Linked DNA regions of Homo sapiens. The protein of the gene in region 1 interacts with the protein of each later gene in a pairwise test. Each region holds a gene or a part of one and is shown in the gene's direction. Other genes may lie near its edges.

Region 1 (2,689 bases):
GCACCTTATATGGTCAGCGATGCCTGCCAGACACAGACGGTGGGGTGGGGCTTGGGGGCCTCCTGGGTGGCCAGAGTGGGACAGCAGGAAGGGCGGCTGTGATGGAGGAGCAGTGCTGGGGCTGGGCCTCAGCCATTCCTGTCCAGCCCTGTGGCCCATCCCAGCTGCTGTTTGTTGCCAATATGAAGTATCCACTGCCACAGGCTCCCCTGGGTGTTGAAGCCAAAGGGTGCAGGTGGGGGAGTCTGACCCCCTCCCAGGTGGGCCTAAGCAGGAAGGGGGTGGAGGAGGGAGGGGGGCATTGACCCTGAGACCACGCTGCGTCTGACCCCTGGGCCCCCACGGCCCTGGCTGCCCCACGGGGCCTGAGACCATCTCGTGCTTCTCCAGTCCCCGGGCCGAGGCTCCAGCCTTGGCCAGAAGCTGGGGTGAGCTGACCCAGAATCCCTGCCCTGCTCTCCCCAGCGCTAGGAGACCAGGCCAGCCCAGGAACCAGGGAGGTGACCCTGCTCTCTGGCCTCCTGGCTGATGTCACAGCACTGAGCTCAGCCCAGGCCTTCGTCCACTCATGTCCAAGAGGCGGGGCATCCCCCACCCAGCCAGAGCCCCTGACATGGGCTGCACTCGCTGAGGCCAGGCAGCGCTGCGGAGAGGAGCGGCAGAGTGGGTTGTCTGCCGCAGGCAACCAGGCAAGTGTGTCGGGGCTGGGGTGTGAATGCCAGCCTGTGAGTCCCGGAACTATGTGGGTACCCCTACCCCTCACAGAAGCCAAGGGCATGGAGGAGGTCCCTCCACAGTGACAACGGTGTGGGGTAGGGGAGGTGCATTCAGGACACCACCCAGGGACAGTGCCTATGTGATCACCTCTTAAAGGCTAAGCTTAGGGGCATTTCCCAAAGTGGGGACAGAGGGCAGGACGCCCAGGCTGGGGGCTCTCCTCGCCCGCCCTGGTGTCTGACAGCCTCAAGGAAGGAGCAGTGCCTGTGTCAGCCATGGGGCCCTTGGAGCTGCCGCTGGTGCCTAGGGGGCCTGGGTTTCTGCCCAGGCAGCCAGTGGCTGTTGGGAGCCTCTGTTTCCCCTGTGCTGGGGGCCTTGAGTGCTATGCTAGCAGGGGCCTGGCCCCAAGTGTGAGTGATGAGCAATAAACGTACCGTCCCCCTCTGTTCTGAGTGATCCCTAGCAGCCAAGGCCACCCCCAGCTGCTGTCTAGGCCAGCCCTACCTGCGCTCTGCCCCTGGTCCCTGCTCCTCCCTGTCCTGGTTTGGCATGATAGGCGCTCCAGTCTCCAGGACAAAGGGGCAAATGTGTGGCCACCCCCATCTGGCTGCAGAAAAGGCCACTCCTTCCTGGGGTTGGGGTGGTCCAGGAGTGCTGGGCCTTCTTCCACAGTCCTGGGCTGGAATTCAGTGTGGCTGCCTGGGTTACTTGTATGCGCCCCTGAAGGAAGGGTCCACTCCAGGCCGCCTGGTCCCTGCGAAGTGTCACACTGTGGGTCACCGGGGGCTGTGGCTAATGTGGTCCGGGAGGCCTGTGTCCCTGAGAGTTGCTCAGCCCTGCTCCGAGGGCTTGTCCTCTCCTTCCAGGACCCAGCTTCCCTTCTAACCTTGTTACTCACCTGGGGCACAGAGGAGGGGCCCCCAGTCAGGTTCAACATGGAAGTGGGTGACCCTAATGCCAGGAGCTTTGGGGTCAGGCTGTCCCTGGGGTGTCATGAACTGGGTGACGCACACCCCTGAGATCTCAGTTCCCCCAAGCCTGCCCTGCCCCTCCTGGCCACAGCAAAGGCCTGCATGGTGTCTGATGGGTGGACACCGGGAGGTGTTTCTTTGAGGCGCAGCTCCATGGTTTATAGGACACATAGGCCTCAGGCACCGTAGGGTCCAGGTTGTGCCCATTTTCCAGCCGGGGCTGGTTGCCCTGGTGGCAGCCCTGGGTGAGTCACCAGGGTCCGCACATGGAGAGCGGGAGGTCCCAGCCCACCCTTAGTTGTCACATGGGACAGAGTTGCTGTGTCAATCCCCTCGGCCCTGCTGCTCTGCCCTGCACACAGGCCCCCATGATGACCTTGAGCCTCCAGGCATCCACCCCCACCGTATGGCCCTCTAGACCCAGCTGGGCCTCACCCCACTCCCTCAGCTTGGATCCTCACGTGGCCTGGAGCCAGCATTAAACTCCTGTATGTCCTTCAAGACCCCTTCAAATGTCCTTTTCTCAGCATGCTTCCCCAGACATCTAATGCCCAGGCGGGAGAGTCCTGCACACCATGTCCCGAAGGAGTCCCCATAGCAGAGGAGCAGAAGGCAAGCAGCGCCCCAGTTCTGTGATGGGGAGCCTGACTTTCAGAGGTAGAGCTGGGCCCATGGCCGTGAGTGACCGATGAGCAGGCCCGGATGGTCAGCGCGAGTCAGCAGCACGGGCTCATCATGGGGCACGGATTCACCAGAAACTCCCTGCCTGGCCCAGTGTGTACTCGCCTGTGGCCCTCAGATTTTCCCTGGCAATTCCTCCCCGCTCACCCTGCTGTCCTGCACTGAGACAGTGGCACATGACTCCCAGCTGCCCAAGCCCTGGAAGGTCCCAGACCCTGGCTCTGACTCAGCTGCTTGGAGGGTCCTAGTCCTGGGAACTGCCCTAGAGCCGAGATTAGAGTACCCCTCCCTCAGGAAGCCCCGGGGTGTCAGCTGCTCCT
Region 2 (4,925 bases), on another chromosome or scaffold:
ACCTTCCCCTTTTGTGGTGCCAAAAGGGTTGGAGACCACTGCCCTAAACATTTATTTGGAAATACTTTTCAACAGGCCCTCTTCTTCGCAGAAGTCATAGTGGCAGTTTCCATTTTATTTAGGAAATGACTCTCTCAGCTCAGCTGCATCCCAGGTCAGACTCCCTCATCACCCTTGGGGCTACACTCATCTGATTGGGCAAAAAACAGTCCAGGCTCTCTGAGAAGTAGACTCTGCAAATCCTACTCCTTCCCAGTAAAGATGTGGCCTCCTTATCCCTCTAACGGGGCCCCACATTCCCGACTGGGGCAGTGACCTGTCAAACCAGCCAGTTTTAAGTGACACGCATCATCCCCTCTGCATATCACATAGGCTCTCAGAGAGGTAAACCCACCCATCTCAGATCCAGTGTTTTTGTTTGGTTTGTCTGTTTGTTTGTTTTGTGAGACGGGATCTCACTCGGTCCCCCAGGCTAGAGTGTAGTGGCGTGAACTTGGCTCACTGCAACCACTGCCTCTTGGGCTCAAGCAATCTTCCACCTCAGCCTCCTCAGTAACTAATTTGTGTACTTTTTGTAGAGAAACTCCTGAATTCAAGTGACCCTCCTGCTTCAGCCTCCCAAGTAGCTGGGACTACAGGTGTGTGCCACTACACCTGGCTAATTTTTTTATTTTTTGTAGAGACGGAGTTTTTCCCCGTCAGCCAGGCTGGTCTCAAACTCCTGGACTCAAGTGACCCACCTGGCCTCCCACAGTTCTGGGATTACAAGTGTGACCCACCACACCTGGCCAGATCCAGTGTTTCAAAGCACCTAGGTGATTAAAGGATGAGGATAGGGGGTGCACATCTGGGCTGAGCTGAATTGCAACATCTGAGGAGGTTTACATTAGCAAATATTTTGAGTGTCTGTTACATTCTGTTGTATGTAAGTATCTAGGGACCCAGCAAATAACAAGAATTGGCCATATCTGAATCACTTACGATCATACAGGATTTCCCTCAGATGGTTTGAGTAAGCTTTAATGAAGATGTGACTCAAAAGTGTGGCCGATTTAGGGAACCAATAAAGGTGACACACCCAGAGACCAGCAATGGTGGTAAGCCTCTGACACGGGAGCGTGGGTGATGTGGCAGTATATTCTGTCGTAATCAGCTTCCTGGTGGCACAGAGAAAGGAAGAGAAGGAGTGGGATGGGGCACAATCAGAATTAACCACCACATGATTCCCAGAATTCAGTGTTCTGTGCACATGGGCCATGTCCTGAAGCTAGGTGGGCTTTCTACCGTCCTTAGGTCTTTGCTGGAGTAGACCGTGTGGTATAGTGGAAAGAATGAGGCTTGGGGTCAGACACAGATTTGAATTTGAATCCCAGCTCCAACAACACCTTGCAACTGTGAATCTTGGACAAGATACTTCTCCCTGGGCCTCGGATTGCTCTTCTGGAAAGAGCTATGTCCCAGGATTACCGTGAGAATTAAATCAAAAAGTGTGAATCACACCTCGCACACACTGCCTAGCCCCTGGTTGGCACTCAGCAGATGTTAGTTTTCTTTTGAGAAGAAAGCATTGTGTTCCTGTGGGATTTCTCTTTTAAATTGCAATAAGATAAAAAATCTATGTCATAGGAAACCTCAAGTTGCCTGGTCCTCAGTAGAGCATTGTCAGTGTTAGGCTCCATTTCCAAGTGTGTAGATTGTCAGTGTTTATTTGCAAGTATAATTTGCTTTTATTAGATAATTTTCAAATAAAATGGCCGATCAGACCAAGCCCAAGAAATTTGTTAAATCCTTGTTACTTCGATGAGTCTTTGCTTCCCCTTTCCAAAATTCAGTGTTCTTGTGGCTTATTCATTAATTTTACGTCTCTATCCCAACCAGGTTCTCTCTAGTTCCTTTGTTGCTTTATGTTCAGAGATAATGCTGCTGATCATCCATTGTGGAGACCACTTTTGAAATAAACTGTAGTGAACATGTCTTTTCTGTACTGGATAGAAAAGATATTCAGTTAATTGATTACTTTTTTTCCCTAGAAAAGTAACTTTCGAAAAACAGTGGTTCTACCTGGATAACGTCATTGGCCATAGTTATGGAACTGCATTTGAAGTGACCAGTGGAGGAAGTCTACAGCCCAAGAAGAAGAGGGAAGAGCCTACTGCAGGTGCACATTTTGGATGCGTGAAATAGATGCTCTCCAACTGACTAGTCAGAAACATCTCAGCCTCCACCTAATTCCCAAGTGCTAGGCCATGCTATCCCAAAAGAAATCTTAACTCATAATCTAAGAACTGCAGCTCAGTGGAGTGAAGCAAGTACTGCCTTTGGCCATGAGATAACCTGGATTCTGGCTCCAGCCCACCATTAAATGGTTCTCTGTTCTTGGGCCAGGCATTTAATCCTATGAGTCGTTGCTGCGTCATTGCAAGAACATAATGTAAAGTTCTTTCAGTGCCCAGAAGTTATGTAACAGCTGTGAGGTGGTTAGCATATGGTGTAGAGGTTAAGAGGTCTGGTTTTGGATCCAGCTAAGTTCAATTTCTACCTTCATCACTTGCCTTGTACCGTTGGGCAACTTATTTGATTTCTGTGAGTCTTATATCCTTATATATGTAAAATAGGGTCATAAACACATTTAATGCCTAGGTTGTATTGAGTGTTCTATGATATGACTCATAGGAAGTTCTGAATAGTGTCTTGCTTTTAGTAAGGGCCCATAATTTTAGCTATTACTATTATTATTTCTTAACAACCTCTTGTCCAAAAGCTGTTATTGTTAATTAAAATTATATTTATTAAAATGAACATTGAGAGTATCTTATTAATTAAAACACAAGTAATTATTTGAAGTTAAATACTGTTAAAGTTTTGAGTCAAACCTGTTATTTAGATACATTTAAATTAATATCCATATTTTTACTAAGCACCAAATATATGCCAGGTATAATTTGGCGCTGCAATTATAGCAGTTCATAAGATAGACTGTCGTATAAAATGTGCTTACCAGTTGGAACACCAAAAATAATCAAGTAGACAAGCAAACAGCATGATTTCTGATGGTGAAGTGACACATGCTATGAAGATAATAAAGCAGGGGCGTGTACTAATTTGGTAAAGCAAGAGAATGAGCTCAGCCTCAAGTGATAGAAAGGATCCAGCCACTCAGACATCTGTCGTAGAACCTTCCAGGCAGAGGAAGCAGCAGGTGCCAAAAGCCTGCTGTGGGACCTTGCTGGGTGTGTTCAAGGAACAGAAAGAAGGCCATTGTGGCTGAAGCTAAAGTGTCAAGAGATCAGGCCAGGAATGATAGGCAGGGGCCAGATCATTTATGACCTTGCAGGTCATCTTTGGAGTGTATTCTTATTGCTATGGGAAGCCACTGTATGGTTTTAAGCATGGGGTAGATGAGTCAAATTGCATTTAAACAAAGAGCACTCTGGCATCCAGGTGGATAGTAGGGGGGCAAGACTGGGAGCAGGAAGATGACTTAGAGGCTTGGAGTAGTTTTGGCAGGAAAGGATAGTGTGATGGGGGCAGTGCAGCTGGGAGGCCAGACTTGAGTGGCTGATGGACTGGATGTGGATATGAACTCAGAAAAAGAAAGTGTCAAATAATTTCAGACCATAAATGTCAATAGAGCAATTTCTTTCCTTAGAGACTAAAGAAGCGGGCACTGATAATCGAAATATAGTTGATGATGGGAAATCTCAGAAACTTACTCAAGATGACATAAAAGCTTTGAAGGACAAGGGCATTAAAGGAGAGGTAATATTCAAAGGATTTTTAGTTTTGTTTTTGTCTGTTTGGCATTTAGGAAACTGTTGGGTTTTTAAAGCAGACTGTACCTAAGGTAAAACAAAAAAATAACGTTATAGCTTTGATAGAAATAGGTTGAAATGTACATGTTACTCAACATTTCAAAGATTTTATGTCTTATATACAGGAATATAAGTGAATGACATTACTAATGTCAGTGGTAGAGAATGTAATAACAGTGCATATCAGGATTTAACTTTGTTCATTTTCAGTAATGTTTTCAGCCAGTGTCTTCAGAAATTAGTTTCCTTTACCTCTCTTCTCCTTTTGTTGGATATCTCTGTTCTTTTACGTTGGTTTAAGTGGAGTTATAAAGTACTTGTATTTTATTATAAATTCCAAATAGAGTATAGAAATATAAAGTTCATCTATTTGGACTTCTGTGGAAAAGGGATTGGAGAATCAGACCATTGGATCCATTCTTGGGTAAGAAGCCTTTGGAAATTACTTGTTTTGTGAAAGTAAAGTTTCAGAAAATCTACTTGCTCCTTTTCTTATAGGAAATAGTTCAGCAGTTAATTGAAAATAGTACAACATTCCGAGACAAGACAGAATTTGCCCAAGATAAATATATTAAAAAGAAGAAAAAAAAGTAAGTAGTTTTTATTTTAAAAGGCCCACAATATTAAACTTCTTATATGTTTATAAAATATACATTTTATTACAAATAAAATATTTTAAGTCATTTTTTTAAATCAGCGTTCTGTTTTTTCTTCCCCCAGATATGAAGCCATCATTACTGTTGTGAAGCCATCCACCCGTATTCTTTCAATTATGTATTATGCAAGAGAACCTGGAAAAATTAAGTACGCTTTGTTTCCTTTCAAAAGTATAATTGGGGGAAATATGTCTTTAAGAAAGTCATGATTTTAAGTAAAATGAAAAAGCTTGCTCACCTGCATAAAGTATCCTCCTACCTCATAAATTGTAAGTCCTTTTACTGTCACCTCCAAAGCAATCAATAATCTTATCAACACAATTTTAATAAAGCAAACAAAACTTGAAAAATGATGATTAAAATAATAGGCTTTACTTAGCTAAAAATGAACAAATTATTGTTTTTACTTTAGCCACATGAGATACGATACACTAGCCCAGATGTTGACGTTGGGAAA

Evidence for each region. Proteins that work in one complex are often made in the same cells at the same time.
Region 2: the proteins of TRMT61A (region 1) and TRMT6 interact in binary tests that used the Homo sapiens proteins (3 or more experiments, as listed by UniProt).

Annotation. Positions count from the first base shown.
Region 1 is NC_000014.9:103,534,885-103,537,573, forward strand, and holds the end of TRMT61A (tRNA (adenine(58)-N(1))-methyltransferase catalytic subunit TRMT61A), read left to right. Parts: 3' UTR 1-2,189; downstream 2,190-2,689. UniProt on the Homo sapiens protein: Catalytic subunit of tRNA (adenine-N(1)-)-methyltransferase, which catalyzes the formation of N(1)-methyladenine at position 58 (m1A58) in initiator methionyl-tRNA.
Region 2 is NC_000020.11:5,943,639-5,948,563, reverse strand, and holds part of TRMT6 (tRNA (adenine(58)-N(1))-methyltransferase non-catalytic subunit TRM6), read left to right. Parts: intron 1-2,030; coding exon 2,031-2,158; intron 2,159-3,649; coding exon 3,650-3,759; intron 3,760-4,310; coding exon 4,311-4,402; intron 4,403-4,532; coding exon 4,533-4,616; intron 4,617-4,880; coding exon 4,881-4,925. UniProt on the Homo sapiens protein: Substrate-binding subunit of tRNA (adenine-N(1)-)-methyltransferase, which catalyzes the formation of N(1)-methyladenine at position 58 (m1A58) in initiator methionyl-tRNA.